4 separate regions of the Homo sapiens genome follow, and all the other regions are linked to region 2. The links come from fine-mapping of genetic effects on gene expression. A gene starts in region 2. Each other region holds a variant in brackets. All regions are shown on one strand. Distances are between the middles of the regions. Region 1 overlaps GOLGB1 (golgin B1). Region 2 holds the start of EAF2 (ELL associated factor 2). Region 3 overlaps EAF2 (ELL associated factor 2). Region 4 has its middle 44 kb from the start of ILDR1.

Region 1 (8,112 bases), 110 kb after region 2:
ATGGTGAGAACATTCAGTTTCTCACCATTAATTATGATGTTGGCTGTAAGTTTTTTAAAGATGCCCTTTATTAGGTTGAGGAAATTCACTTCTTAGTTTGCTGAGAATGAATTATTCTTATTGTGAATTCATAATCATGAATAGATATTGAAATGTGTCAAATGCTTTTTCTCAATCTATTGACATTATGTGGTTTTCCTTATTTAGTCTGTTAATATGGTGAATTACATTGATTTTCATATTTTGAATTAGCATTACATTTCTTGAACCCCACTTGGTTGTGATGTATTATCTTTTTATATATTACTGGATTTAATTAGCTAATATTTTATGGACTATTTGAATATTTTGTTGACTGTGACCATGAGGAACATTGGTCTTTAGTTTTCTTGTAATATCTTTGTCTGCTTTTAGTATTAGGGCAATGCTAGTCTGGTAAAATAAGTTAGAAGGTGTTCCTTCCTTTTCTATCTTCTGGCATAGATTATATAAAATTGGTATTATTCCTTAAATGTTTCTTGTTACCTACTAATGAAGCCACCTTGATCTGGAGTTTTCTTTTTTTAGAAGGTTTTTAATGTATGAATTCAATTTCATATTTATATGTGTGTATATATATGTGTGTGTGTGTCTGTACACACACATGCACCCACACATATCTACTCATTTATATTCAGGTTCTCTATTTCTTCTTGAGCTTTTGGTAGCTTGAATCTTTCAGTGAACTGACCCATTTTATCTACATGGATGAACTTAAAAGTATAGGGCTATTTGTAGTGTTTATTATCTTTTAATGTATGTTAGATCATTAATGATGTTTCCTCTTTCATTTATGATGCCAGTAATTTGTGTCTTCTCTGTTTTTTTCTTGGTCATCTTGACTAGAGTTTTATCAATTTTATTGATCTTTTCAGATAATCAACTTTTGGTTTTATTGATATTCTCTATTTTTCTATTTTTATTAATTTCTACTCTGATTTTTATTTTTATTTTTCTGCTTACACTGGCTGTAATTTGTTCTTCTTTTTCTAATTTTCTATAGAAGAATCATAGGTTACTGATTTCTGTCCTTCCTCCTTTTCTAATATATGCATTTAATGCTGTACATTTTGAACAAAGTTTATATTTAAATTTTAGCAAAGCCACATGGTTTATCAAGAAAGCTTTCTGAAAGAATGGGGTTCATGGGGCACATAAAAAGAAAAATGTTGCAGTATCATGGAGTTTATTTGAACAAGTGGGAGAGAATAACAGTCTGACAGAGGAAGAAAGAATAAGACATTCATGTTTGGGCATGTGCCTGTAGTCTCAGCTACTCGAAAGGCTGAGGTGGCAGGATCGCTTGAGCCCAGAAAGCAGAGGTTGCAGTGGGCTGAGATTGCGTCCCTGTACTCCAGCCTGCGTGACAGAGCAAGACCCTGTCTCAAAAAAAAAAAAAGAAAAAGAAAAAAGAAATTCATGTTTGTAAGTGAAACTACTATGAAAGAAGGGCATTAAAGATAAAAACTACCTTTAAGGTGTATTTAACAATTATAGATTGGTATTTAACATTGTATTAATGTTTAACGATTAGGTACTTACATTTTATTTTAGAAATGGTGTTAGTGATGGTGATAACCTCTGTACAATTGCCACTGAAAAGAACAGCGTGTGACTACACTGGAAGTACTCAAATGCCTTTTTGAAGACATCATTGTGCTGCAGACTGTGTCTAATACAAATCACCTGTACAGTATTCTTTTTTCATTCACGGATGATATGGTTATCAATATAGGAGAAGCCTATGTTCATTTTGCTGATTCTTAGGTTTTTTCCCCCCTTCTTTTCCTACAGAAATGCTGAGCCGATTATCAGGATTAGCAAATGTTGTTTTGCATGAATTATCAGGAGATGATGACACTGATCAGAATATGAGGGCTCCCCTAGACCCTGTGAGTAGTTCTGTTCTGATTTAAACTGGTAAGACATATGTTCTGTGTTCTTCTAAGGAAAATAATTTAAGATAGAAGGGTGTGCGAAGCCTCCCTGGTACTAGGTGAAGCGAGGATTAAGAAAAATATTGAAATTTTATAAGTGATCCTTCTCTTGTAAGTTTTTAGCTTAAAAGCCACAGTGATGGGAAACAAGTCCTGGATACAATTTGAAAGGGCTTTCTCATTTGTCTCCCTGGGCCTTGTTTGGTGCCAGAGTGTTTTAAGTCCTTTGTTCTCATCCTTGGCTATTCCTTTTCCACAGGAAAGGTCTAAGTGACAAATGAGGAAACTGGAACACCTTTTGGGTTTCAGAATATCTGTTTGCTTTGTAATTTCATTTACCACTTCTCCTATAGTTTGTATTGTATTTTCTTTTTTTTTTAAGATGATACAAATTGGCAGTATGTATTATATTTTCTGAAGTCCACATAAGGAATTAATAAAACTTCTTAGTTTTCTGAAAAGACAAGAAGTAATGCGTAGTGGTTAAGAGAGTTTTACTTAACTACTCTTAATTTTAACTTTTGGCCTTTTACCCTTACTGGTTTATGATTTTTGCTTTCCTTTATTTTTCTCTTTGGTAAAATTAGGATAATAATACCTTAAATGGGATAATGTTTGTAAAATGCTTAACATTTATAAAATACTTAATATATTGTAATGGCTATGATAATGATTATTATTGGATCAGAGTTAGATTCTTAAGTTAACAAGAATATGAATTGGGCAAAACATAAAAAGTTGGAATGAAGAAACTCCTGTTGGGAAGCTAATACCTTTTCCTGGTGCACTGGCAACTTTTTTCCTAAATATTAGGAATTACACCAAGAATCTGACATGGAATTTAATAATACTACACAAGAAGATGTTCAGGAGCGCCTGGCTTATGCAGAGCAATTGGTGGTGGAGCTAAAAGATATTATTAGACAGAAGGATGTTCAACTGCAGCAGAAAGATGAAGCTCTACAGGTACTATTGTTTTTATCCTTTCTTGTGGAGCATTTGATAAAGGACAGATGATACACTACTCACTTTAATTTTTGTCTCCACTTAGATTATTAGGGAATCTGATTATCTCCCTAGTACTGTAACCTTATGCCTACTGAAAATAACTTTTGGGTCGGTGTGGTAGCTCACACCTGTAATCCCAGCATTTTGGGAGGCTGAGATGGGAGGATTTCTTGAGGCCAGGAGTTCGAGATCAGCCTGGGCAACATAGTGAGACCCTGTCTCCACAAAAAAAAATTTAAAAAAAATTAGCTGGGCATGGTATTGGGCACCTGTAGTCCCAGCTACTCTGGAGGCTGAGATAGGATCGCTTGAGCCTGGGAGTTAGAGGCTGCAGTGAGTTGTGATTGTGCCACTGCACTCCAGCCCTGGTAACAGAGAGATACCCTGTCTCTGAAAGTAATAATAATAAAAATAACTTTTAGTATGTGCTAGATAAGAGGGGAATAAACATTTATGTATTTACCATCATTGTTTTTGGGCAGGAAGAGAGAAAAGCTGCTGATAACAAAATTAAAAAACTAAAACTTCATGCGAAGGCCAAATTAACTTCTTTGAATAAATACATAGAAGAAATGAAAGCACAAGGAGGGACTGTTCTGCCTACAGAACCTCAGTCAGAGGAGCAACTTTCCAAGGTATGGTGACTGGGTGTAGTGTATATTTCCTAAGTTGAAAAAACCTACCAATACAGCAGATCTTCACCAATCACAAACATTTAGGATGCTAAAATGATACAGCACTAAATAATGTTTTGTTTTTTTTTTTCTTATAGAGCTTGTAGTTCAGCTGGACTGTAGGCCACACACAGGGAGAATGAAAGATGTACAGAAAACATGGATATGAAATGCCAGTTGTGACCTGGACTTTCAGGGATTAAAAAAGGCTTACAGGAAGAAATAAGTACTGAAGTGAGGCATTTAGAGAGGAGGGAAACATACCTTTTGGAGGAGTTTCATCATTGATTAGAAGATTAAACTAGATTATCTCTAAGGTTTCTTCCAGCTCTGAAACTTTTTAATTCAATGACTTAACACAGAATATTCTGTGTCCTCATATATAGTCACATAGTGGTGGATTAAAGCTTCATGCATGTGGGCTGAATCAGCTGAATTACCTGGGACTCTCTAAAAGGGAGGCTCACTAGGTTTATGACTGCAGCCAACAAAGCAGTTTAAGGTTGGAGATACAGAGGAGGAATAAGGAAAGTACTGCCCTGTGAGGAATATTGTCCCAGTACTCAAATTTTCATTATCTTTCCTGTATGGTTAAACTCCACATATTCACATTCAGTCAGCTATTTAGAGAACAAGAAACTTCAGTTTTGTGGAGAGTTTGATACAGATTATATGGAGGCAGGCATATCACATGCATACTGTAGTTATAGAGTGAGCCTAGACTTCACCGTGTGTAAGAAATCTTTTTATTTTTTTAGTTTCATTTTGTTTTGCTTTGACCTGCTAGTATCCTTAGTTCTTGGGAAATGAGATTTTAATCAGTTTTCTAGGCACAACCTTTGGGATCGCTAGTTAGTGACCCAGTTCCTGCTTAGTCTTTCCTCTCAGGGCCTAATGATCAGAGAAC[A/G]TTACTTTCCCTGAATTGATAATCTTATTTAACTTCTTGAAGCCTATTTTAAAAGCTTTTCTCAATCTTCTCAAATAATTTCACCTTGATCCTTCTTTTCCTTTTGGTTTTTCCTCTGTCAGTTCTCTTCCCCTCACTGTGGTAGCACCAACCTCTCTCCTCATATTGCTTTGTTCCCTCCAGCTTCTCCTCAGCTATGATGTCAGATTTTTAAATTATCCATTTTATACTCTGCTTTTTAATTTCATTTTTAGCTCTGAGACCTTAAAGCAGTAATGTCTTAGAGTTCATTTTCTTTCTCTGTTAAAGAAATGATTTCTAAGTTTCAGCAATCAGTCATAGCAACCCTTTAACTATTATATACTCAATACAGAGCTAGGTATTCTGTGGAAAGTATAGTTGAAGAAATGACAACAGTCCTCAGGTGCTTGACTGACTTATGTGAAAGTATAAAAGTATTCTTTGTAATTCCAGTAAGCAGAAATAGCTTTGTTTAGGGGGTTGGGAGGGACTAAATTTACAAAGAGGCAGAATCTCAGTCTAAGGGAGAGCTTTTGGAAAAAAAAATAGATTATTGAAAAAATTGGATTTCCCCTCACTGGCTCTTTTCTGATGTGTTGCTTCTCACTTAGCAACAGCTATAGTTTCCTGAGCTCTCTCCTTGATTCTTCAAGGCAACAAGACTTCGGGTTTTCTATTAAGGTTTAGTCCTGCATGGCACTGACTGGTTTTGCCCTCAGAATAAAAGCTGTCAAAATGGGAAACTCGGTACCATTTCTTCCAATTATCACATCCCCTCCAGTATCTTCCTGCTTTTGGTTGCTCTCCAGTATTTTCAGATAGCTGTTTTCTATATTGTCCACAGTTTTGGGTTCACATGCTTGGTGTGAGGGAAAAAAAAAAAAAAAAAAAAAAAAAAAATATATATATATATATATATATATATATGTGTGTGTGTGTATGTATTTCACAGTTTATAGCTATTATGTGAGGGAGGGTAGGTCTAACAGGAACTGCTTGGCCATACAAAAACTGGACAACCCTAAGATTTCTTATTTGTTAGATCAGCTGGTTTTTCTTGCTCCCATCAGTTTAATAAAATTATAACTAAATGGTTGTAAATGAAAAATTAGAAGAAAATATCAAATATATATTAATTGTAATTCTTTTAAATAATGACTTTATCTCCTGCATTTTCAGCATGACAAGAGTTCTACAGAGGAAGAGATGGAAATAGAAAAGATAAAACATAAGCTCCAGGAGAAGGAGGAACTAATCAGCACTTTGCAAGCCCAGCTTACTCAGGCACAGGCAGAACAACCTGCACAGGTAGGGGTGGAAGTTACTTCATAATCATTAGGTTAATGAATCACTAAAACCAATGGATTATTATGTGACAAATACATTTTTCTAGATGCACAATGGGCATTTATCTATGTATATATCAGTCTCCTTCTTTTCTTCATTTCTTCTTGTCTGGTAATTTTATTAGAATATGCATTGGTGTTTGTCATTTTTAGTTGTTATTCATAGATACCCAGTATACTCTTTCAATATATGGTTTCACATATTTTAAGTTTGTTTTTTTGTTTGTTGTTTTATTTCACTTTAGGCCTTCTATTTTTTGTTTGTTTTTGTGTTTTTTCTGTTTTTTTATCTTCTATACTGCAATGATTTTTTCTTTTCTATTGGATTTTTCATGAGTTCAGTCACCTCATTTCTGATTTTTCTAAATCTGATTTATGTTTTTCTCTCATCTCTGTATAATTTTTTTTTCTTTTCTTTTCTTTTTTTTTTTTTTTTTTTTTGAGACAGGGTGTCACTCTGTTGGCCAGGCTGGAGTGGAGCAGTACAGTCTCAGCTCTCTGTAACCTCTGCTTGCCAGGTTCAAGCAATTCTCCTGCCTCAGCCTCCTGAGTAGCTGGGATTACAGGCATGCACCACCATGCCTGGCTAATTTTTTGTATTTTTAGTAGAAATGGGGTTTCACCATGTTAGCTAGGCTGGTCTGGAACTCCTGACCTCAAGTGATCCACCTGCCTGGGCCTCCCAAAGTGCTGGTATTACAGGTGTGAGCCACCATGCCTGGCCTGTATAATTTTCTTAATTTTTAAAAACTTTTTGAAATAGATTGCAATTTTGATTTTTTTTTTTTTAGTGTGGCTCTGGTATGCTTTTATCACCTATAATCATATCATTCTGCTCCTTAGTTTTGTTTTTAATTTATAATAACAGAAATTTAATTTAATTTAAATAAATTTATTTCTTACATTTATGGAGGCTGAGAAGTCTAAAGTTGAGGGACTGCATCTGGTGAGGGTCTTCTTGCTGATAGGGCTCTCAGTGGTGTCGCAAGGCAGCGCAAGTCATCACATAGTGAGGGGGCTGAGTGTGCTAATTTGCCAGCTCAGGTCTCTCTTCTTCTTATAAAGCTACCAGTTCCCCTTCTATGACAACCCATTAATCCATTAATCTGTGAATGTGTTAATCCATTGCTGAGTTCAGAGACCTCCTGAACCAGTCCTTTCTTAAAGGCCTCTTGTCACACTGGGGATTCAGTTTCAACGTGAGTTTTGGAGGGGACATTCACATCATAGCCTTCCACCCTTGGCTCTCCAAAACTCATATTCTTCTCACATACAAATACATTAATTGCATCCCCACAGCCCCAAAGTCTTAGCTCATTCCTGCACCAATTTCTGTGAGCCTGTGAAATAAAAACACATTATCTTCCTCCAAGATACAATGGTAGGACAAGCATAGGGTTCACATTCTCATTCTAAAAGGGAGAACTAGGCAAGAAGAAAGAGAGTAACAGACCCCAAGCAAGTTTGAAAACCAAGAGAGTAGACATTGGGCCTTAAAATTCCAGAATAATCTTCTTTTACTCCATTTTCAGCATCCTCTGCCGGTACAGGGGTTGGGTCCCCAAGACCTCAGGCAGTTCTGTCCCTATGGCTTTGCTGGGCTTAGTCCAGCCAGCATTCCCAGGCTGACTTTGCATTGCACACTGGTAGCTCTATAGTTCTGGTATGGCAGTGGTAGTCCCACACCGTGATTCCACTAGGCATTACTCTAGTGGGGACTCTGCAGGGCAATTCCAACCCCTCATTTCCCCTTGGCATTGCTCTAGTGGGGCTCTCTGTGGTGGTTCTGCCTCAAGACAAGCCTCTGCCTGAGCCCCCTGGCTATTGATGACATCCTTCGACATGTAAGTGGAGACTACCAAGCCTCCACAGCTCTTGCTTTCTGTGAGCCTGCAGAATTAGCACCATGTGGATGTTACCAAGTTTTACAACTCGTACCTTTTGAGCTGTGACATGAGCCATACCTGCGGCTGCTTTGCACTAACCAGAACAGCTGGGCTGCAAGGAGCAGTATCCTGAAGTGGCACAGAGCAGTGGTATCTCAGGGCCTATTCACAGAAACCATTCTGTCCTCTTAGGGCTTTGGGCCTGTGATGGGGGCTGTTGGGGCAGCCTTAAAGATTTCTAAAATGCATTCTGAAATGCCTTTAGGGCTTTTTCCCATTGTCTTAACTGTTAGA
Region 2 (8,112 bases):
CTTTACTTAATGATAAACATGAATTCATAATCAATAAATCTGCCAAAACTATTCTGAATCTATTTACATTTCTAATTATTCTACTGTTAGGATTAATAAACTCTACTCTTTATTACCCATTATATCAAGCAGTGTTGTCTTTTGTCCTCACACACTTTTTTAAAAGTATATAACTTCCGAGTTTCAAGTGGTTGAGTTCCAGAATTAAAGAATTTGCTGATTAATCTCATATTCATACTTTCTGTATGCTTCTAAATGTCAAACATATTCTCTTCCAAGTTGCTATGATTCCAGACTAAATAGTTCATTTCTCAGTTCTCCTTGGTTTGGAAACCCTACCACCAACTTTACCATTTATTTATTCTCTCTGGATTTCTTTCATCTATGCAATTTTTTCAGGTTTACAATGGAATTACTTATTATATTGCATGAAGAGTAGAAAACCATTTTCTACTTTGTATTTAATACCTTTTCTGCCAATGTTTATCGCTTTTCTGATTATTTTAACTGTAACATCACATAATGCCAATATTTTCATAAGAATCCACAATTATTATCATCAGTTTATTTTCCGGGATTTGAATGAATTCAACCAACTCCAAAACCCACACTGCTCATTAGCTCATCATTTAAGGACACAAAAAAGTGGTGTCATTTACAAACTTAGGATTTCACAATTCATTGCCTTATCTGGATATAAATAGTAAAACTAGTACTACTCCCAATTCAAAATTGATTCTAGTAGGTCCTGTTATTGAAACTCTTCTACCCGGTAAAGCACCTGTTGCTAAGCATTCAGCTTATCGTTGATAGAACATCCCATGCCCTTCCTACCACATGCCAGACTATCTTTTTGATAGTTTTTATTGCTAAACTCTGATAAATGCTGTTTCAAAGTCTGACTAAATTACATTCATTAGCACCCCTCGTACACATATGAATATAACTCTTCAACATTAATGGTGACTACTATTTATTCTCTACCCTGTGGCAAATATTGTTCCAGGTTGTTTATGCTATCTTATTTAATCCTTACACAAACCATGAAATGTAAATATTACTATTATCTTTTAGCCATAAGAAAACTGAGGTTGAGAGCTTAGAGAATGTTCCCAAAGTCACATTATATATATAGGTGGTGGAGACCAGGATTCACATCCGGGTTTGCCTGAAGTCTTATATCAGACAGGCAGAATTGCTCCTGTAAATAAAGGCAGAATATTACTTTCTCTCCAATGACATTGGCTTGAGGGTTGGTTATAAATTAGGTCCCCCTTATCTGCATGAACATCAGCTTCATACTATTCTACAATTTTCAAACCTCACTCTGAGTTCTTAAGAGTGAGGATTACATTGGAAATGAACCTGTCCTCAAGAATAATAAACAGTTTTATTTAAATAAATCTAAAATGATTCTGTGCCATTACCACACCTGCTTCAACAACAACAATAAAAGAAAATAAGGACTGAAAACTTTTCTAATAGTTCTGTCTTCCACAGGACTAAGTGTGTATTCAAACATGTATGTTTGTTTATTTATTATTGTCATTATTGTTGTTTTGCTTATTTTTGTTTATTTTCATTCTGGTAGCTGGATCATCTGATCCTCTGACTTTCAAGATACTGGCATTTTCAGAACCTTTATAAATGAAAGGCTGTGAAGGACCTGCAAGATTATTTTCAAAGGCAATTTTTTATTCATTTAAATTGGGATTTGTGCCCTACATAAGAGAATATATACCCAAATCATATAGAAATATATTCTTAAGCAAATTTTTATAATCTTAAGCCCTTGTAACTTGAAAAATTAATATTAAGACTATTGCATACCTGAGAAGGAAGAGAAAAGGAGAGAGTAGATACTATTTGAGAAAAAGGCATGGAAAAACCAGATAAAGACGCATATCACACTTCCGGAAAATGGGACTGAAGAGAGAGAAACTGCAGAGCCAGCACAGCACCATCTCATCGTGGGGAGCTCTGGATGAGAAAGTATATGATAAAGAAGAATAAACAAGGGACACTGTTGAAGAGTTTCTGTTCACAAATATCTCACCCATTTATTCTACCAATTGGATGTTAATTTTGCTTTAAAAAAACCCTTTTAGTAAATATATTCTTGCAGGGTTAAAACCAGTGGTTCTTCATACCTTTACTTTGAGTAACTATAACTAAATTGTCTACAACTTAAATAAACTTTTGGGAGAATGTATGCTTTAATTAGTTGTTTTGATTGAACCATGGAACATTTCAGAGTAAAAACCATAAAGGTCTCTAAACAACCCGAGAACAGAATGACTGAGAAAGGCGGAATGATGAGATATTAAGGAAGGGCAAGGCTGGGGAAAGGAAGTGAAAAAATACTTACAGTTTTACCACAGAAAAATGAGAAGTTATAATTCAGTGATCTTGAAGTTTCCTTCCCGCTCTACAATTCTATGACAGTTGTTATGCAAAAAACGAATGTCTTACACATAAAAACTTATATGCTATATTTTCCTTCCTGGAATCTATATCATCCAACTGCTAAAGCAAAAGAGCTCCTTTTTCTACTCCAACAACATAAAAGAGAATAATTTATTAAAACTAGTTCCAGAGGACATAAAGAAAACCAAAGGGTAGAAATCATAGGGAGGTAAGCATCTTCCAAATAAAGAAATTAATAACACACCCTCGAATACTTTGATAATCAGTATTTGATAACTGAGTGAAATCTGGGGTCCAAAGAGATATACAGATCATTGGGATGGTTGAGAATTTCTCCCTTTGCAAAGAACACACCAAATAAGAACCCTCATCTGCCAGAGGTGAGAAAAAGTGATGAAAAGAGAGAATATTGCCCCACCAGCCTCAAGGCATTCAAGTTCCCCGGCATTCGGTCCTTAGTCCCTTCCCATTTGTCACCTTATTATTTTCCTGTCCACCCCTGCATCATCCACCTGTCACGTCTGTCTCCACAGTCACCTCTACAGACTTTTTTCACACTTTCCCTTCCTGTCTGCTGGTCTCAACGCTCTCTGTCCAGGGTTTACCCACATTTGCTCTACTCCGATTCCTTCCACCGACCCCCTAAGACTCCGAGCAGGTTAGAGGATCGCGCTGCCTCCCCCCTCCCCGCCCCGTAGTCTCCAACAGTGTAAGGGGTACTGTGGGAACAAAACCCAGAGGGGTTTGTGCCTCTTCACCCCCATCCCGGGAGGCTCCCCCTCTATCCCCGGATGGTCCTCACTCACAGCGCACAGTGTGGAAGGCGCAGCGCGGCTGCTTCTCGAAACTCTCCCCTAACTTGAGAACCCGCTCGCGACGGTCTAGGTGTGAGAATCCCGCTGCGCTATTCATAATTACTCTCCTGCTTTGACTTTAACTCCGCCACCAGCGCTCACTATCTGCCACCTCAGCCTGAAGCAGCTGCACTTGATCCCGCCAGCCAAGTCACCCAGACTCCACCCCGCGCTCGACGCGCACCGCCCCACCGGAGCGTCTCACGTTCTGATTGGCTTATTAGCAAAGGGCGCTCCGCCCCTTGACTCCGAGGCTCCTAGTCCCGCCTCCAGGCCCCTTCCCGCGTCGCGACGCACGCTGCCCCGGAAGGCCGCGGCGCTGTAGTGCGGCGTGGGAGCCCCAGGTTCTTTAGTGGAAGAACGCGAAGCGAGGATGAGGTAACTTATCTGAGGTGGTGGCTGGGGAGGGAGAGGGCCCCAGGGCGCCTACCAGGAGGCCAGGACCCCAGGCTCCTGGACGAAGTCAGCCGGCTTGTAAGAGCTCTTAACGGGAGAATCGGCCTGCCCTCACGCCCACTCTGTAGAGATCTGGTGTGGAAACTGAGGCCTGGGGAGGTGCAGTGTCCAGGCACAGGGCCTAGTGTCTTATCCAAGGCCTGGTAGCGCGAAAGCCGGGTCTAGAATCTGGAGTAAAGGAGCCCAGAGGCCCCAGAATCTCGGTCCTTAGACTTGAAGCGACGCTGTTACCTCAGTAATCGTTTTCTGACCTTTTTGTACCAGAGGAAGTTTCTTGTGGTCCTAGGACTGGAGAAGGGGATGTGTAGTGGGGAGGAGAAAGAGGATTCGGAGATAGCAACTGCAGACATTTAGGATCAGCCGCAACAGGATCGCACTGAATTTCCTTTTCATTTATTTTCCTCACAGTGATCCGTGGAGGCAGTAACAGGCGCGGCGAGGGAGAAGTGATTCCCGAAGAATCAAGGCTGGGCCGGACCCGGTGGCCTGGCAACAGGGTAGTAGCCTTAAAATAGATAAATAATTGTCTTTTTGTGTCAAATTTCATGAATTTAATGTAAAGATGGGAGAAGTGTTGAATTATAGGAGAAACACTCGAGAAAGTTTACAGATGGTTTCCATAACAGGTGGTTTTTCAGGGTAATTACGCAATCCAACTGCACTCCCTCACCTTCTGCCTTAGGCACATTTGTCAATTGATTTTGGGGTAGGTGGTTATGTCTCCTTCAACCTGTCTGTGTAAATCCTACCCTTTGAAGGTGTGCCGAAGCTGTTTCATATCGTAGTTAAATGCTTTAAGGCAGATGGTGGCTCTAGTTTGAACCCCTGCTTTATACTTAACAGTGTGACTTTGTGCCAGCTAATTACATTCTCCAGAGTTTAAGTATGCTCATTGTTCAAATTGGGAAAAAAATAATAGTATCTGTTCCTTAGAGTTGTTGGAATGATTAAATGAGTTAATACATGAAAGCAATTAGAACAATTCCTGGAGCATGATAAGAGGTCTCCAAATGGTTATTTAAGGCCCAGCTCTACACTTATACTACATTTTAAGACCATCTTGGTGGCTGCCTTCTCTTCTAAATAGAATCATTCTAGGAGGTAGGAATTGCTATTTTGTTTACAGCAAGAAAAATGGTTCAGAGAAGCCCAGTCCTCTGACTTTATGGCCTGTATTCTTATCTGTGTCATCTATTTAGCATTTAACATATATCTGATATTCTTAAGTATATTTTTTTGTATCTGTGTGTGTGTACACATGTACATAAACATACTTTTCTTTCCCAACCAGAACAATAGCAGAGAGTATGTCTTGTGTAGAATCTTTGCATCCCCTGCATCTACCATACTGCTCTGCACATATTTGTTGATGACAATAATGATTTAGTGATGTTTTATTACGGTAGCCAGGAGGGCACAAACTGTTTTGAGCCTATTTTACGTTAGAGAGGCTTCCAACTATAAATCTGAGCTTTCTCTATTGTAACAAGAGAAAAACAGAAAGTCAAGAAATTGAGGCTCAGAATGCCTGAGGTTTGTGCATTTACTCATACTTTCAACCTGTATTTAGCAAATCCTAGTACGTGCCAGGTACTAGTCTAGCCACTGGGAATACAGTTGTGAACCAAAGATATAAGAAGGCAGCCAGCAAAGATGGTCTTAAAATGTAGTATGATGGTAGAACTGGGCTTTAATAATAACCATTTGGAGAGCTCTTACTATGTGCCAGGAATTGTTCCAATTGCTTTCATGTATTAACTCATTTAATCATCTCTAAGGGATAGGTAGGTTGCCCTCATGAAGCTTACCTTCTGAGGTGAATTTTCTCCAAACATATATTAAAATGAACTATGTTGTACTAGCTCAAGAATAGACAAACAGATTAAATTACTAGAAACTAAGTAGAGTCCAAAAAGATACCCTGTGTATGTGTATGTATACATAGTGCATGAAAATGTGACGTTTCAGATTGTTTCTGTTATGTCTATTCATAACTAGTTACCTTATGAATTTATGACTACTGTGTGCATTTTTTAATCCATCAATAACTTTAACATTAAAAATTAGATTCTTATATGACACCATTCACAAAAATACCTTACTTTAGAAGATATGTAAGGAAAACAAAACCAAAAAAACATGAAGATTTGGAGAATGTTTTTTATCTCTTGGGTTAGAGAGGACCTTTCTAAACAGGACACAAAAGACAGATGCCATAGAGGAAAAGATTGTTATATTTCATATGTAAAAATTGTAAAAATGGCTGGGCGCTGTGGCTCATGCCTGTAATCCCAGCACTTTGGGAGGCCGAAGTGGGCAGACCACTTGAGGTCATGAGTTCAAGACCAGCCTGGCCAACATGGTGAAACCCCATCTCTACTAAAAATACAAAAATTAGCTGGGCACGTTGGCACACGCCTGTAATCCCAGCTACTTGGGAGGCTGAGGCATGAAATCACTTGAACCCAGGAGGTGGAGGATGCAGTGAGCTGAGATTGCACCACTGCACTGCAGCCAGGGTAAACAGAGTCAGACTCTCTCTCAAAAAAAAAAAAAAAAATTGTAAAATTATGGTAAAGACCCCATAGTCAAATTTAAAAAAATAAATGACAAGGAGAAAATTTTACAGCCAATATAAAAGAGAAAAGATTCCTATCCATGTATGAAAAGCTTCTGCAAAAGAATAAGACAAACCGATAGAAATATAGTCAAGGGATATGAATAGAAAATACATAAAAGAAATAATGGCCAGTGAACACGAAATGTGCCTGACATCCCTAATAATCAAAGAAATACAAATTAAAACACAATCATACCAATTTTCATCTAACAGATTGGCAAAAATGTAAAGGATCATGTGTATATTCATTGCAGTGTTGCTTGTAATAGCATACAGCTTGAGTGACCTCCAGTAGAGGTGATGTTTAAATATATTTTGCTGCATTCTTAAAAGGAAATGTAGCATAATGCAGCCATTTGGAGAGAATGAGATAACTATATGCACTCTCTTTGAAAGTTTTGTGACTACTATGTGCCGGGAGTTGCACTGGGCTTTCTTTAAGGTATTTTCAGCAAACCTGTCTTTTAATGATTTATATTGTACCTAATAAGAGATATATGAATGGAAAAACAGTTTTTGCTCTCACATCATGACAATCAACACAAAAGACTTCTGTGACCAAATGTGTGGAGTTTTCTTCCACCAACAAGCAAGCAATCAATTCTGCAGCGGACACCAGCTGGGTATCATCTAATTCAATTCTGACACTGTCTACTTGGAGATAGGGTCAGATCCCTTAGGTTTAGGGCTTAGTCCTGCAAGAGGGACCCCCATTTCTGATGCCAATCCAAGCCCTAAGTTGTTTTACCTGTGCTTCTGACTGACCAGCTACACATGAGGAATCCTATTAATACACACCTTGGGGTGTATTAATTTGCTAGAGGAGCTAACAAAACTGAGGGAAACATGTTTTCCAGTTTATTATAAAGATATTACAGAGACCCTGGGCAACATGGAGAAACCCTGTCTCTACTAAAAATACAAAAAATTAGCCGAGCGTCATGGCTTGCAAGTGTAGTCCCAGCTACTTGGGAGGCTGAGGTGGGAGAATCACCTGAACCTGAGAAGTCTAGGCTGCAGTGAGCCATAATTGTACCATTGTCCTCCAGCCTGGGCAACAGGAGTGAGATCCTGTCTCCAAAAAAAAATACTAGGATACAAATGAAGAGATGCATACTGTGAAGTATGGGAAGGGGCACAGAGCTTCCATGTCCTCCCTGCCTGTGATATCCAGGAAATTCCTCCAGGAACTTCCACATGTTCAGCTATCCAGTAGCTCTTTGTACCCCATCCTCTTGAGCCTTTTATGGAGATTTCAATGGATAGGCATGACTGAAGCATGGACAATCATTTTGGAAATGTGATTGGACAAAAAAGATATGATCTGATACTAACAGACTGAGTGGGGAAACCCAGCAAGGCCTGTCTGCTCAGATTCTTCTTGGCTTCTCTGTTCAGCATTCCTTCCAGGATATAGGGCAAGACCCATTCTGAAACAGGGGTCTTATGACCTACAGCTAGACAAGATAGGTCAGAGAAAGGCAGGGATGATTAGAGTTCTGCTTTGGAGAGAAGGAGCAGGTGAAAGGAGGAGAGGAGGAAGTCAGAAATAGATTCTGTTTTCTGAGGCCTAAAGCACCCTAACATAACAAGACTGTAACAAAGGCTATGGGAGTTATGAGCCAGAAACTGTGGACAAAAACATATATATGTATATGTATATATGTATGTATGGAAATGATCACACGCTCTATCTACTTCATAGCCCTGTTGTGAGGATTACACAAGACAGTGTATAGTATATTAACATAGTGC
Region 3 (8,112 bases), 25 kb before region 2:
CCTAACTGGGAGACACCTCCCAGTAGGGGCTGACTGACACCTCATACAGCCAAGTGCCCCTCTGAGACGAAGCTTCCAGAGGAAGGACCAGGCAGCAACATTTGCCCTTCTGCAATATTTGCTACTCTGCAGCCTCCGCTGGTGATACCCAGGAAAACAGGGTCTGGAGTGCACCTCCAGCAAACTCCAACAGACTGCAGCTGAGGGTCCTGACTGTTAGAAGGAAAACTAACAAACAGAAAGGACATCCACACCAAAACCCCATCTGTACGTCACCATTATCAAAGACCAAAGGTAGATAAAACCTTTATCTACCTTTTGGGATAAAAGATGGGGAGAAACCAGAGCAGAAAAGCTGAAAATTCCAAAAATCAGAGTGCCTCTTCTCCTCCAAAGGAATGCAGCTCCTCGCCAGCAATGGAATAAAGCTGGACAGAGAACGACTTTGACGAATAGAGAGAAGAAGGCTTCAGACAATTGGTGATAACAAACTTCTCCAAGCTAAAGGAGGATGTTCGAACCCATCGCAAAGAAGCTAAAAACCTTGAAAAAAGATTAAACAAATGGCTAACTAGAATAAACAGCATAGAGAAGACCTTAAATGACCTGATGGAGCTGAAAACCGTGGCACGAGAACTACGTGATGCTTCCACAAGCTTCAGTAGCCAATTAGATCAAGTGGAAGAAAGGGTTTCAGTGATTGAAGATCAAATGAATGAAATGAAGTGAGAAGAGAAGTTTAGAGTAAAAAGAGTAAAAAGAAATGAACAAAGCCTCCAGGAATACGGGACAATGTGAAAAGACCAAATCTACGTTTGATTGGTGTATCTGAAAGTGACAGAGAGAATGGAAACAAGTTGGAAAACACTCTTCAGGATATTATCCAGGAGAACTTCCCCAACCTAGCAAGGCAGGCCAACATTCAAATTCAGGAAATACAGAGAATACCACAAAGATACTCCTGGAGAAGAGCAACTCCAAGACACATAATTGTCAGATTCACCAATGTTGAAATGAAGGAAAAAATGTTAAAGGAAGCCAGAGAGAAAGGTCGGGTTACCCACAAAGCGAAGCCCATCAGACTAACAGCAGATCTCTCGGCAGAAACTCTACAAGCCAGAAGAGCATGGGGGCCAATATTCAACATTCTTAAAGAAAATAATTTGCAACACAGAATTTCATATCCAGCCACACTAAGCTTCATAAGTGAAGGAGAAATAAAATCCTTTACAGACAAGCAAATGCTGAGAGATTTTGTCACCACCAGGCCTGCCTTACAAGAGCTCCTGAAGGAAGCACTAAACATGGAAAGGAACAGCCGGTACCAGCCACTACAAAAACATGCCAAATTGTAAAGACCATTGATGCTAGGAAGAAACTACATAAACTAACGAGCAAAATAACCAGCTAACATCATAATGACAGGATCAAATTAACACATAACAATATTAACCTTAAATGTAAATAAGCTAAATGCTCCAATTAAAAGACACAGACTGGCAAATTGGATAAAGAGTCAAGACCCATCAGTGCACTGTATTCAGGAGACACATCTCACATGCAGAGACACACATAGGCTCAAAATAAAGGGATGGAGGAAGATCTACCACGCAAATGGAAAACAAAAAAAAAGCAGGGGTTGCAATCCTAGTCCCTGACAAAACAGACTTTAAACCAACAAAGATCAAAAGAGACAAGGAAGGCCATTACATAATGGAAAGGGATCAATTCAGCAAGAAGACCTAACTATCCTAAATATATATGCACCCAGTACAGGAGTACCCAGATTCATAAAGCAAGTCCTTAGAGACATACAAAGAGACTTAGACTCCCAAACAATAATAATGGGAGACTTTAACACCCCACTGTCAATATTAGACAGATCAATGAGACAGAAGGTTAACAAGGATATACAGGACATGAACTCAGCTCTGCACCAAGTGGACCTAATAAACATCTACAGAACTCTCCACCCCAAATCAACAGAATATACATCCTTCTCAGAACCACATCACACTTATTCCAAAATTGACCACATAGTTAGAAGTAAAGCACTCCTCAGCAAATATAAAAGAATAGAAATCACAACAAACTGTCTCTCAGAACACAGTGCAATCAAATTAGAACTCAGGACTAAGAAACTCACTCAAAACGCACAACTACATGGAAACTGAACAACCTGCTCCTGAATGACTACTGGGTAAATAACAAAATGAAGGCAGAAATAAAGATGTCCTTTGAAACCAATGAGAACAAAGACACAACATACCAGAATCTCTGGGACACATTTAAAGCAGTGTGTAGAGGGAAATTTACAGCACTAAATGCCCACAAGAGAAAGCAGGAAAGATCTAAAATCGACACCGTAACATCACCAGTCAAAGAACTAAAGAAGCAAGAGCAAACAAATTCAAAAGCTAGCAGAAGGCAAGAAATAACTAAGATCAGAGGAGAACTGAAGGAGATAGAGACACAAAAAACCCTTCAAAAAAATCAATGAATCTAGGAGCTGGTTTTTTGAAAAGATCAACAAAATTGATAGACCACTAGCAAGACTAATAAAGAAAAAAAGAGAGAAGAATCAAATAGATACAATAACAAATGATAAACGGGATAGCACCACTGATCCCACAGAAATACAAACTACCATCAGAGAATACTATAAACACCTCTATGCAAATAAACTAGAAAATCGAGAAGAAATGGATAAATTCCTGGACACATACACCCTCCCAAGAATAAACAAGGAAGAAATTGAATCCCTGAATAGACCAATACAGGCTCTGAAATTGAGGCAATAATTAATAGCCTACCAATCAAAAAAAGGCCAGGACCAGACGGATTCACAGCTGAATTCTACCAGAGGTAGAAAGAGGGGCTGGTATCATTCCTTCTGAAACTATTCCAATCGATAGAAAAAGAGGGAATCCTGCCTAACTCATTTGATGAGGCCAGCATCATCCTGATATGAAAGCCTGGCAGAGACAACAAAGAAAGAGAATTTTAGACCAGTATCCCTGGTGAACACCGATGTGAAAATCCTCAATAAAATACTGGCAAATTGAATCCAGCAGCACATCAAAAAGCTTATCCACCATGATCAAGTCGGCTTCATCCTTGGGATACAAGGCTGGTTCAACATATGCCAATCAATAAACATAATCCATCACATAAACAGAACGAATGACAAAAACCACACAATTATCTCAATAGATGCAGAAAAGGCCTT[C/T]GACAAAAATCAACAGCCCTTCATGCTAAAAACTCTCAATAAACTAGGTATTGATGGAACGTATCTCAAAATAATAAGAGCTATTTATGACAAACCCACAGCCAATATCATACTGAATGGGCAAAAACTGGAAGCATTCCCTTTGAAAACTGGCACAAGACAGGGATGCCCTCTTTCACCACTCCTATTCAACATAGTGTTGGGGAGCTCTGGCCAGGGCAATCAGGCAGGAGAAAGAAACAAAGGGTATTCAATTGGGAAAAGAGGAAGTCAAATTGTCCCTGTTTGCAGATGACATGATTGTATATTTAGAAAACCCCATTGTCTCAGCCCCAAATCTCCTTAAGCTGATAAGCAACTTCAGCAAAGTCTCAGGATACAAAATCAATGTGCAAAAATCACAAGCATTCCTATACACCAATAACAAACAAACAGAGAGCCAAATCATGAGTGAACTCCCATTCACAATTGCTTCAAAGAGAATAAAATACCTAGGAATCCAACTTACAAGGGATGTGAAGGACCTCTTCAAGCAGAAATACAAACCACTGCTCAAAAAAATAAAAGAGGACACAAACAAATGGAAGAACATTCCATGCTCATGGATAGGAAGAGTCAATATCGTGAAAATGGCCATACTGTCCAAGGTAATTTATAGATTCAATGCCATCTCCATCAAGCTATCAATGGCTTTCTTCAGAGAATTGGAAAAAAACTACTTTAAAGTCATACAGACACAAAAAACAGCCCGCATTGCCAAGACAATCCTAAGCCAAAAGAACAAAGCCGGAGGCATCACGCTACCTGACTTGAAACTATACTGCAAGGCTACAGTAATCAAAACACCATAGTACTGGTACCAAAACACATATATAGACCAATGGAACATAACAGAGGCTTCAGAAATCACACCACACATCTACAATCATCTGATCTTTGACAAACCTGACAAAAACAAGCAACGGGGAAAGGATTCCCTGTTTAATATATGGTGCTGGGAAAACTGGCTAGCCGTATGTAGAAAGCTGAAACTGGATACTTTCCTTACACCTTATATAAAAATTAATTCAAGATGGATTAAAGACTTAAATGTTAGACCTAAAACCATAAAAACGCTAGAAGAAAACCTAGGCAATACCATTCAGGACATAGGCATGGGCAAGGACTTCATGACTAAAACATCAAAAGCAATGGCAACAGAAGCCAAAATAGACAAATGGGATATGATTGAACTAAAGAGCTTCTGCACAGCAAAAGAAACTACCATCAGAGTGAACAGGCAACCTACAGAATGGGAGAAAATTTTTGCAATTTACCCATTTTACAAAGGGCTAATATCCAGAATCTATGAAGAACTTACACAAATTTACAAGAAAAAAACAAACGACTCCATCAAAAAGTGGGCAAAGGATATGAACAGACACTTCTCAAAAGAAGACATTTATGCAGCCAACAGACACATGAAAAAATGCTCATCATCACTGGTCATCAGAGAAATGCAAATCAAAACCACAATGAGATACCATCTCACACCAGTTAGAATGGCGATCATTAAAAAGGCAGGAAACAACAGGTGCTAGAGAGATGTGGAGAAATAGGAACACTTTTACACTGTTGATGGGACTGTAAATTAGTTCAACCATTGCGGAAGACTGTGTGGCGATTCCTCAAGGATCTAGAACTAGAAATACCATTTGACCCAGCCATCCCATTACTGGGTATATACCCGAAGGATTATAAATCATGCTGCTATAAAGACACATGCACACGTATGTTTATTGTGGCACTATTCACAATAGCAAAGACTTGGAACCAACCCAAATGTCCAACAATGATAGACTGGATTAAGAAAATGTGGCACATATACACCATGGAATACTATGCAGCCATAAAAAAGGATGTGTTCACGTCCTTTGTAGGGACATGGATGAAGCTGGAAACCATCATTCTGAGCAAACTACTGCAAGGACAGAAAACCAAACACCACATGTTCTCACTCATAGGTGGGAATTGAACAATGAGAACACTTGGACACAGGGTGTCCATCACACACCGGGGCCTGTCATGGGGTTGGGGGAGAGGGGAGGGATAGCATTCGGAGATATACCTAATGTAAATGATGAGTTAATGGGTGCAGCACACCAACATGCCACATGTATACATATGTAACAAACCTGCACGTTGTGTACATGTACCCTAGAACTTAAAGTATAATAAAATAAATAAAATGATACAAATTCTCTTATATGGATATTGCTTACATAAAACTAAAAATCATAAGCTACATCATTACCCAGAAAAATGCGTAATTACAAAAAATATTATGCTCTTGGTAAACATTTATAATTAGTACCACTGTTAATTAAAATGAAAAAATTCATTTAGCATTTTTTTTTCTTTTTTTTTTTTTTGAGATGGAGTCTCACCGTCACCCAGGCTGGAGTGCAGTGGCGCAATCTCAGCTCACTGCAACCTCTGCCTCCTGGGTTCAAGTGATTCTTCTACCTCAGCCTCCCGAGTAGGTGGGACCACAGGCACATGCCATCATGCCCAGCTAATTTTTGTATTTTTAGCAGAGATGCGGTTTCACCATGTTGGCCAGGCTGGTGTTGAACTACTGACCTCATGATCCGCCTGCCTCGGCCTCCTAAAGTGCTGGGATTACAGGTGTGAGCCACCATGCCTGGCCTTAACATTTCTTAATTATCTCTTATAAAGGGATGTTACATATACTTAGATTTTACCTCTTTCGATATCATCTATTGGAGATGCTGGGGACATCTTATCTTCAGATGGAGAATGTTTTACAAGATTGGGAGTCCTGGCTGAATTCCACATTTGTTGTTGCTGTTGTTCTTTACGATACTGAATTTTACTGCTTCCTTCAACTCTGCAATTAAGAATATCAAATATTGAAACAGGTATGACAGCAATGTAACAAAAATTTAACTTACAAAGTTACTAAAACTGACCACTTATTCTTTTCCTAAACATCTTTAGAATAATATTCCATAATTAAAACATTAATTTAGTTCATTATTTAACAAGTATTTATCAAGTTCTATTTCTGTGATACACATGTCCATTGAGGGATACAAACAAGAACAAAAACAAAACCAGTGCCAGGCTTGGCGCCTCATGCCTGTAATCCCAGCATATTGGGAGGCTGAAGTGGGAGGATTACTTGAGGCCAGGAATTCAAGACCAGCCTTGTCAACATAACGAGACCCTGTCTGTATAAAAATAATAAAAATATTAGCTGGGCATGATGATGCACACCTGTAATCTCAGCTATTTAGGAGGCTGTGGGAGGATCATTTGAGCCCAGGAGTTAGAAGCTGCAGTAAGCTATGATTGCGCCACTGCACTCCAGCCTGGGTGACAGAGTGAGACCCTGTCTCATAAAACAAAAACAAAAATCCAGGCTGGTGCAGTGGCTCATGCCTATAATCCCAGCACTTTCGGAGGCTGAGGAAGGAAGATGGTTTGAGGCCAGGAGTTCAAGACCAGCCTGGGCAATATAACGAGACCCTCCATCTCTATTTAAAAATAAATAAAACAACAACCAAAAAAAAAAAAAAGCCATTGCTTAAATTGAACAGATAAGATATTCACAAATGACTAAAATAAAAGGAAAAATATAAGTGTATAACAGGTACGATATATTCCGTAAGTTCTAAGATTATCATTTCTGTTAAAACTAAATCACTTCTAAAGTTTCCATTCATAACTTAAGACAGGCATGATAATAAAGGAGATTCATATACTTTTCTTTCAATATCTTTAAGAAGAGTGTAGTATAATAAAAGTATGCTTGATTTTTGCCTCTCCCATTTCCAGTCACCAAATCCTGTCAGTTCTTCCTTCAAAAAGTCTTTAGAACCTCACTTTCTCTTCATTCCTGCCCTCAAAAATCCTGGTTTATACATTTTTCTGATTCCTACATTGTTTCATTTACTCAGTTTCTCTACTGAATTAATGTTTTAAAACAAAACTGTAAACATGCCAATCCCTGGTTAAAAAGACTTTAATATGTAACGACTACCAGCAAGATAATGTCCTAATTTCTTAGTTAATATTGATGGCACTAACCTCAACCAACAAAATTACAACCTTACCTCTAGCCCAATATCAACATCGCCCCCTACTTTCCAAAACGTATACACAGGTACAGAGACAAACCTCTGCTCCGTTCAAGTAGGTCTTACTCATTGGCCCTGAATAAATCAGATATCAAACTTGTCTTACATTCTCATCTCCTCTCTAATCAATTAAATCGGTATTGCACAAACTTTCTTCTGGTGTGAATCACAGCAGGGCATGGATGGTAGGGGTGAGGGGATATTAAAAAATAGAGTTTCCCAGGATCCTTCCCTGATTTAAGGTTGGATTCGGGAACTAATTTTTAACAAGCACCCAAGGTAATTCTTATGATCCTAACCTCCTCTTAAGGTACATCAAAAAGGCCTCCCTGAATTTTCCAATCTACCATTACTTCTCCTTTTTCTTAATTCCTAGAGCAATTTTTGTCTATACTATTTGCATGGCTTTTAGAGCAAACATCCTTATATTACAGGGTAAGTAATGTGTTACCTATTTCCAAAAAGGATTTGAGATGGGTATATTCTCCTATTGACTTTTTAAATGGAATAGTCTGTTTATCTGAATAAAATGCAGAAGTTTTGAGGTGTTTGCAGAGCAAACTTTCCTTTTTCTAGTACCTTACACATCCTAGGTACTCAATAAATTTTTACTAATGAAGATGAAATTATTTTAGAGAATGTATAATGGCTTCCTTCAATCCAGTTATACAGAAGTATCTACAATAGGATAAAAAGTGTACCTATACCTATAGAAAGCATTTAGAAGCAAAACAAGCTTTT
Region 4 (8,112 bases), 140 kb before region 2:
GACAAAGCTGCTAAGGCAATTCAATGAGGGAAGGATAGTATTTTCTATAAATGGTGATGGACCACTTGTTTAGTCATATGCAAAAAGATGGATTTAGACTCTTACACCTTATACAAAAATTAACTTCAAATGGACAATAGACCTAAATGTAAGAGCTAAACCCCAAAAAGTATAGAAAAATCTTTTTTGTCCTTAGGTAAGGCAGAGTCCTTAGATATGACACCAATAGCATAATCCTTAAAAGAAAAAATGTATAAATTGAATTTCATCAAAATGTAAAACTTTTTTATTTCAAAAGAACACCATTAAGAAAACAAAATACAAACTACAACCTTAGAGAACATATTTGCAAATCATATTTCTGATAAAGTACTTCTAACCAGAATATATCAGGAGGGCTTACAACTCAATAATAAGACAAACCCAACTTGTTTTAAATGGGCAACGTTTAAATAGAGACTTCATCAAAGAAGATATAAAAATTTCCAACAAGCACATGAAAAGATGATATACATCTTAGGGAAATGCAAATTAAAACCACAGTGAGATACCACTTCATAGCCACCAGAATGGTGAGTTAGTCGGCTAGGGTTGCCATAACAAAATATCACAGACTGGGTGGCTTAACAGAAATTTACTTCTCACAGTTCTGGAGACTGGAAGTCCAAGATTAAGGTGCCTGCAGATTTGGTTTCTCCTGAGGCCTCTTTTCCTTGGCTTGCAGATGGTAGCCTTCTCACTTTCTCTCTCATATGTCCTGATCTTTTCTTTCTAGGACACCAGTCAGATTGGAGTAGGACATACCCTAAATATCCTCATTTTAACTTAATGCCCTCCTTAAAAGACTTATTTCCAAATATAGTTACATTCTGAGGTACTGAGGGGTTAGTGCTTCAACATATGAATTTGGGGGACAGGGACACAATTCACTCCATGATGTGGTAGGCATATCCATGGACTTCCGTAATAAAAGGGAATAAATTACTGACTTGCTGCAACACGGATGAGTTCAAAAACATTATACTAAAGAAAAGAAGCCAGATACAAAAACCACATATGAGGTGATTCTATTTGTACGAAATGTCCAGAAAAGGCAAATCTACAGAGACAGAAAGTAAATTAGTGGTTGCCCAGCACTGGAGTGGGAATAGAGATGGTAAGTGAACATGAGGGTTATTTTCAGAGTGATAGAAATGTTCTAAAATTGGTTGTTATTATGATCAAACAACCTTGTAAATTTACTAAAAATTGTTAACTTGTACAATCATAAGAAGTGAATTTTCTGATTTGTATATTACACCTCAATGAAAATTTTAAGCATAGTAAATGAACATCATTCCAAGTATTTTTTTCTCTGCTTATACAGAATGAGAGCAATAGATAACCTTTTAAAATGTGTTCATATGAATGCTACTAATTTTAGTCAAAAAAAAACCAAAAAACTTTTGCTGGCTGTAGTGGCTCACACCTGTAATCCCAGCACTTTGGGGGCCAGAGGTCGGGGGATTACTTGAGCTCAGGAATTACAGACTAGCCTCAGCAACATAGCAAGACCTCGTATCTACTAACAATAAAAATTTTTAAAAATTAGCCAATCACGGTGGCATGTGCTTGTACTCCCAGCTACTTGGGAGGCTGAGGTGGGAGGATCGCTTGAGCCTAGGAGGTCAAGGCTGCAGTGAGCTATGACCGTGTCACTGCACTCCAGCCTGGGCAACAGATTGAGACCTTGTCTAAGAAAAATAAAAAATAAAACCTGTTTTGCTGGATTTTAACAGAAGAAAAGTAAATTGAAGGGAAACTAGAGGAATTGTTAAACTTTAAATCTTTCATTTCAAGAGATTTTATTTCTTAAGGAACCCTCCTAGATTATGAAAGAAGACAAAGGAAAACATGATGAAGTTAGAATCATTGTACTTTAAACCCTCAGGTTTCAAATGGACTTCCTGGTATTGAAAATGAAAATACTGGCACTCTCACACTTCCTCTAATATTACACCTCTGCATCTCTCAACTTAGTTTTGTTGTTACAGTAAACAAAACTAGTTATGTTTATTTTAGAAAACCCAAAAAAGATAATTTTTATTCAAAGTTATTTTCCAACTTCCACAGAAGGGGAACAAAGAATTCTGATGGTCATCTTAAAAATCAAAGCTATTCTGATCTTTTAGGATTCTGCAGAAAAAAAAGCTGCACTTTTTTGTGGGAGTTTTTATAGAGGACAGTGTTCATAGAGTTCACTTGAAGTTCAGATACATACATACATGAACTAGCCAAGCCTTCAGATTTATTTTAATCATCTCAAACATATTTCACAATTTTTGACAAATATAAAGGCTTACATTTCAGATGAGTCAGACAGTTTAACAGCACCAGAGCCTTAATTTCTTTAGCTTGAATGAAAGGAAAGTAGGCAGAGAAATATAGTAGTAGGTAAAGATAGAGCATTGTCAAGTTTTATATTACTGGAAACCTCATCTGAACCTGAGGTTAGTAAATATAATCTGTATAAGTCTGTTTTCATGCTGCTGATAAAGATATACCTGAGACTGGGCAATTTACAAAAGAAAGAGGTTTAATTGGACTTACAGTTCCACATGGCTGGGGAAGCCTCACAATCATGGCAGAAAGCAAGGAGGAGCAGGTCACATCTTATGTGGATGGCAGCAGGCAAAGAGAGCAGTGCAGGGGAACACCCATTTTAAAACCATCACATTTCGTGCAACTCATTCACTATCATGAGAACAGCACAGGAAAGACCTGCCCCCATGATTCAATCACCTCCCACCTGGTCCTTCTCAAAACATGTGGGAATTCAAGACAGAGATTTGGGCGGGGCCACAGCCAAACTGTATCATTCTGCCCCTGGCCCTTCTGAAATCTCATGTCCTCACATTTCAAAATCAGTCATGCCTTCCCATCAGTCCCCCAAAATCTCAGCTCATTTCAGCATTAACCCAGAAGTCCAAGTTTAAAGTCCCATCTAGACAAGGCAGGTCCCTTCACCTATGAGCCTGTAAAATCAAAAGCAAGTTAGTTACTTCCTAGATACAATGGAGATACAGGCATTAGGTAAATACAGCCATTCCAAATGGGAGAAATTGGCTAAAACAAAGGAGTACAGGCCCCATGCAAGTCTGAAATCCAGCCGAGCAGTCAAATCTTAAAGTTCTAAAATGATCTCCTTTAACTCCACGTCTTGCATCCAGGTCACACTGATGCAAGAGATGGGTTCCCATGGTCTTGGGCAGCTCCACCCCTGTGGCTTTGCAGGATACAGCCCCCCTCCTAGCTGATTTCATGGGCTGGCATTGAGTGCCTGTGGCTTTTCCAGGTGCATGGTGCAAGCTGTCAGTGGATCTACCATTCTGGGGTCTAGAGGACAGTGGCCCTCTTCTCACAGCTCCACTAGGCAGTGCCTCAGTAGGGACTCTTTGTGGGGGCTCCAACCCCACATTTCCCTTTTGCACTGCCCTAGCAGAGGTTCTGCATGAGGGCCTTGCCCCTGCAGCAAACTTTTGCCTGGGCATCCAGACATTTCCATACATCTTCTGAAACCTAGGCAGAGGTTCCCAAACCTCAATTCTTGACTTCTGTGCACCCACATGCCCAATACCACATGGAAGCTGTCAAGGCTTGGGCTTGCACCCTCTGAAGCCATGGCCTGAGCTCTAAGTTGGCCCCTTTCAACCACAGCTGGAGCAGCTGGGACACAGGCCACCAAGTCCTTAGACTGCACACAGCATGGGGACCCTGGGCCCCGGCCCACAAAACCACTTTTTCCTCCTGGGCCTCCATGTCTGTGATGGGAGGGGCTGCCATGAAGGTCTCTGACATGGCCAGGAGAGATTTTCCCCATAGTCTTGGGGATTAACATTAGGCTCCTTGCTACTTATGCAAATTTCTGCAACCGGCTTGAATTTCTCCCCAGAAATTGGTTTTTTAAAAATTTTCTATTGCATAGTCAGGCTGCGAATTTTCCAAACTTTTATGCTCTGCTTCCCTTATAAAACTGAATGCCTTTAACAGCACCCAAGTCACCTCTTGAATTCTTTGCTGCTTAGAAATTTCTTCTTCCAGATACCCTAAATCATCTCTCTCAAGTTGAAAGTTCCACAAATCTTTAGGGCAGTGGCAAAATGCCGCCAGTCTCTGTGCTAAAACATAACAAGAGTCACCTTTGCTCCAGTTCCCAACAAATTCCTTATCTCTATCTAGACCACCTCAGCCTGGACCTTATTGTTCATATCATTATAGGTATTTTTCTTAAAGCCATTCAACAAGTCTCTAGGAAGCTCCAAATTTTCCCACATTTTCCTGTCTTCTTCTGAGCTCTCCAAACTGTTCCAACCTCTGCCTGTTACCCAGTTCAAAAGTTACTTCCACACTTTTGGATATCTTTTCAGCAACTCTACTGGTACCAATTTACTGTATTAGTCCGTTTTCATGCTGCCGATAAATACATACCCAAGACTGGGCAATTTACAAAAGAAAGAGGTTTAATTGGACTTA[C/T]GGTTCCACATGGCTGGGGCAGCCTCACAATCATGGCAGAAAGCAAGGAGGAGCAGGTCACATCTTATGTAAATGGCAGCAGGCAAAGAGAGAGCTGTGCAGGGGAACGCCCCTTTTTAAAACCATCAGATCTCATGAGACTCATTCACTATCATGAGAACAGCACAGGAAAGACCTGCCCCCATGATTCGATCACCTCCAATTGGGTCCCTGCCACAACAGGTGGGAATTCAAGATGGGAGATCTGGGCAGGGACAAAGCCAAACCATATCACAACCTTTCTTTAGACAGCCAGGTCATAAATATACTGTAACCCCTAGATCCTATTATCAGAAAAAAAAAAGTGTGACTATCATCTTATGGCTTTTGCAAAAGGTTCTCTAGAAGGCAATGTTCCTAGAGTCTGTTCATGTTTATAAAAGCTGTTGGTGGACCTAAAACTTCAACTACATCTCAGTATAAGTTTCTATTTAGAATATTATCATTTGGTATTACATGTTGCTGTGGAAAAAACTGAGGACAGTCTATTTTTTTCTTCTTCTCTTCTGTAGATCAATGGTTCTTAAAAGTATGACATGTTGCTGTGGAAAAAAACTGAGGACAGTCTTATGTTTTTTTTTCTTCTTCTTCTTCTGTAGATCAATGGTTCTTAAAAATATGACCCCTGGATTAGCAACATCAATATCACCTAAGAATTTGTTAAAATGCAAATTCTCAGGCCCATTTTATGGCTACAGAATTAGAAATTCTGAGTATAAAGTTGAGTAGCCTGTTTTAACAATACATCCAGGTACTTCTCATGCACACTAAAGTGTGATAACTAATTAAATATTTACCTTTTCTGCCTGAGTGCTTGAAGAAGTTTTGCCTTGAAATTCAATAACCTAATCCAGGATATAATTGAGAGCTCTTTATCAAAATTTTCTATATTCATCTTTGAATATGTACTCTAGCTGGTAAAGGATGCAGAGTGAACAAATAAATCACTTGGCTTTTATGACTGGATGACCGTACATTTTCCCAACATGTTTATTACTAGTGCCTCCTTTCACTCTCAAAATTGTTCTAGTTGGAGTGATCAATTATATTATATGGTCACCCTACTTATGACCAGTGATTCCAGTGGTTTTCAAAATATGTATGGCTAATCAAGATGCTGGGGGATTCTGTGGAAACCCTGATAAGAGAATTAGAGGAGAGGCCCATAGCATTTTGGAGCAAAATCGTGCCTGATTTGAAAATTAATTGCCCTCATTTTGAGAGATAGCATTTGGCTTGCTATTGGGTCATAGTAGAGACCAAACACCTACTTGACTGTAGGACAGGAGGACAGTCAAGTCAGTTCCCCACATGAATTTGGTGTCTTATCTATCACCATAGAGTCCGGCATGGCAGCAACACTCCTCCAGCATGTGGTATATTGACCTTAAGCAGGTCCTAAAGTCAAGAGTAAATTGGATGAACAGGTGGCTATCATTCCTGGTGTGCCTACTGCCATCACACTGCCATCTTACTCTCATCTATACCTGAGCTACATGGAGTGTTCTCTATGATCAGTTGATTGAAAAAGAAAAACATGTGAAGCTAGTTTATAAATGGTTCTCCATGAAAACTGGAGATAAACTTCTGCAGTGCAGCAGCCCCACCAAGGGGTGGAATTCCTTCCAATGGGCAGAATTTTAAGCAGGCTATCTCACTGCCCATTTTGCCTAAAAGAGAGATGACCCAAGAAACAGATCTACAGTAATGCAGGGATTGGGGCTAATGATTGGCAGGTCAGAGATACACAAGGAGTAAGATATAAGGATGTATAACAAGTTGGCCTGAAGAAAGAGGTATGTGAAGGGATCTCTTAAAGTAAACTCAGAGTGTGAGAATATTTGTGTCCTATGTAAATACTCACCAAATGACTTTTATTGCAGAGAAAACATTCTTTACCCAGGTAAACATGACTCCCTTCCAATTTCCGCATGCAGGGCTCTATGATCAATTATTCAATGACAAAGATTCCTGTGGGTCAAATCATTATAATTACCCTACCAGCCTTTCTCCTATTAAAATAAGCAGGCCAAATTGTTTCTGGTATATTGGTGTAATTCATTAGTCTCTGCCACCCTGAGATGTCATCATTCTTATTGAAATCATAGAGACTATTTCAATATTGGTATTTTCCAACTTCATCTCTGGCATACAGAAATCAGCCACAATGGTGCTTTTCAAATATGTTGGTACTACCTTCATTTATGCTTTTCTCTATGCTCTTATTGAAACTGCCTTTGCAAAATCATGACAGTAAGAGAAATTTGACATAGTTGACTCCATCTTGCTTCTGATCTCCAAGCTGTCCTTGGTCATTGCTGGGCATAGGCCAAGCTAACTTTGGAAATGATTTATAGTTTTACCCAAAACAAAGATTATAATAGTCCTTTCCAAAACTAAACTGCCTTTATAAAAGTAATGAAAGTCCAGAAGGTTGGGATTGTGAAAGGGGCCTGAATTCTGAAAAGATAGGCATAGTTTCTGTAATTCCTTACTGCTCAGGGGTCATGTAGCCAGAAGTCACAAGACTTGTGACTTTTCTAACTGTTCCTATAAGTAATATCACTATTGTACAACCTAAGATTGTTTTTTTAAGATGCTTTTCAGACTGATACCACCTGGACTCATGACTTATGACTCAGCGAATCCTATTGCCCCAAACAGAGGTGGACTCAGCATGTGAAGATTGTTTTCCACACCCCTATGATTTCATCCTCAACCAATCAGCAGCACCCATTCCCTAGCCCCCGCCCACCAAATTGTCCATAAAATCCCTAACCTCCAAGTCTTTGGGGAGACTGATTTGAGTGATAAATTTGTTCTCCTGAGTCAGCCAGACTCACATCAATTAAACTCTTTCTGTCCTGCAATGTTGAGGTCTCAGTGGGTTGATTTTTATCTGTTCAGTGGGCAAGAAGAACCCATTGGGTGATTACATTATGACAGGTATGTCTTCAGGGATGGAATGGCTGAGTGAGTAACACAAAACAAATTCACTTTAACATTCTGATAAAAGAAAAATAGCTCAGGGCAATGGCAAGATTTAGCAGGCCCAGAGAAACACTGGTATGGGACTTTAGTCATACCCCTTACCCATGTCCAAAGGCAATTACTTAAAGACATTTTGTTCCTGATAGCTGCCTCACTCATTATCTTCAGGTTCCTGGAATTTGTGATACAAAGAACAGTGTACAGCCAATTAATAGCTTGCATTGTTTTAAGGTAAATTGTTTGTAAAGAACTCAGGAACTGCCTCTTCTTTTTTCCTTAAAAACCTACTTGTAACTGCTGTGAATCAGAGTGTATATTCAGGGCAACTTGAATCTATGCTCCCTGGTGGCCATCCACAAGCTTTAGGCCCAAATAAACTCTCTACTTAATCATATTTTCTGAATCTAGTTATTTAAGGTTGACAATTCTTATCTCCCTAAATCTTTCTTTCTCTACGAGGGATTTTTGAAGTCTCAACTCAACATAGGCCAAAGTAAATATAATTTTCAGTCTACCACCAAAAAACAAAAAACAAAAAAAAAAAGAGAGAACTCTTCCAACTGTGTGTGT

What was found. PIP is the estimated chance that this variant, and not a neighbour inherited with it, causes the effect.
Region 1: its variant is the best candidate, but not a certain one, in a credible set for the expression of EAF2 in fibroblasts (GTEx, PIP 0.58).
Region 3: its variant is the best candidate, but not a certain one, in a credible set for the expression of EAF2 in whole blood (INTERVAL, PIP 0.54).
Region 4: its variant is the best candidate, but not a certain one, in a credible set for the expression of EAF2 in cerebellum (GTEx, PIP 0.53).

Annotation. Positions count from the first base shown.
Region 1 is chr3:121,724,695-121,732,806 of GRCh38, reverse strand. GOLGB1 (golgin B1) reads left to right here. Exons shown (of 22, transcript NM_001366282.2): 2 at 1,834-1,931; 3 at 2,790-2,942; 4 at 3,467-3,619; 5 at 5,766-5,894. The coding sequence starts at 1,836. Among named protein-coding and RNA genes, the nearest start is that of GOLGB1, 21 kb to the left of the region's middle. RefSeq lists an enhancer at 647-1,846. The variant A/G (reference allele first, on the strand shown) is at 4,566.
Region 2 is chr3:121,830,513-121,838,624 of GRCh38, reverse strand. EAF2 (ELL associated factor 2) reads right to left here and starts at 3,416. Exons shown (of 6, transcript NM_018456.6): 1 at 3,234-3,416. The coding sequence starts at 3,339. IQCB1 (IQ motif containing B1) reads left to right here and starts at 3,565. Exons shown (of 15, transcript NM_001023570.4): 1 at 3,565-3,659; 2 at 4,146-4,234.
Region 3 is chr3:121,855,018-121,863,129 of GRCh38, reverse strand. It overlaps EAF2 (ELL associated factor 2), which reads right to left. Exons shown (of 6, transcript NM_018456.6): 4 at 5,974-6,119. Among named protein-coding and RNA genes, the nearest start is that of EAF2, 24 kb to the right of the region's middle. The variant C/T (reference allele first, on the strand shown) is at 3,230.
Region 4 is chr3:121,974,147-121,982,258 of GRCh38, reverse strand. No RefSeq gene overlaps it. Among named protein-coding and RNA genes, the nearest start is that of ILDR1, 44 kb to the left of the region's middle. The variant C/T (reference allele first, on the strand shown) is at 4,513.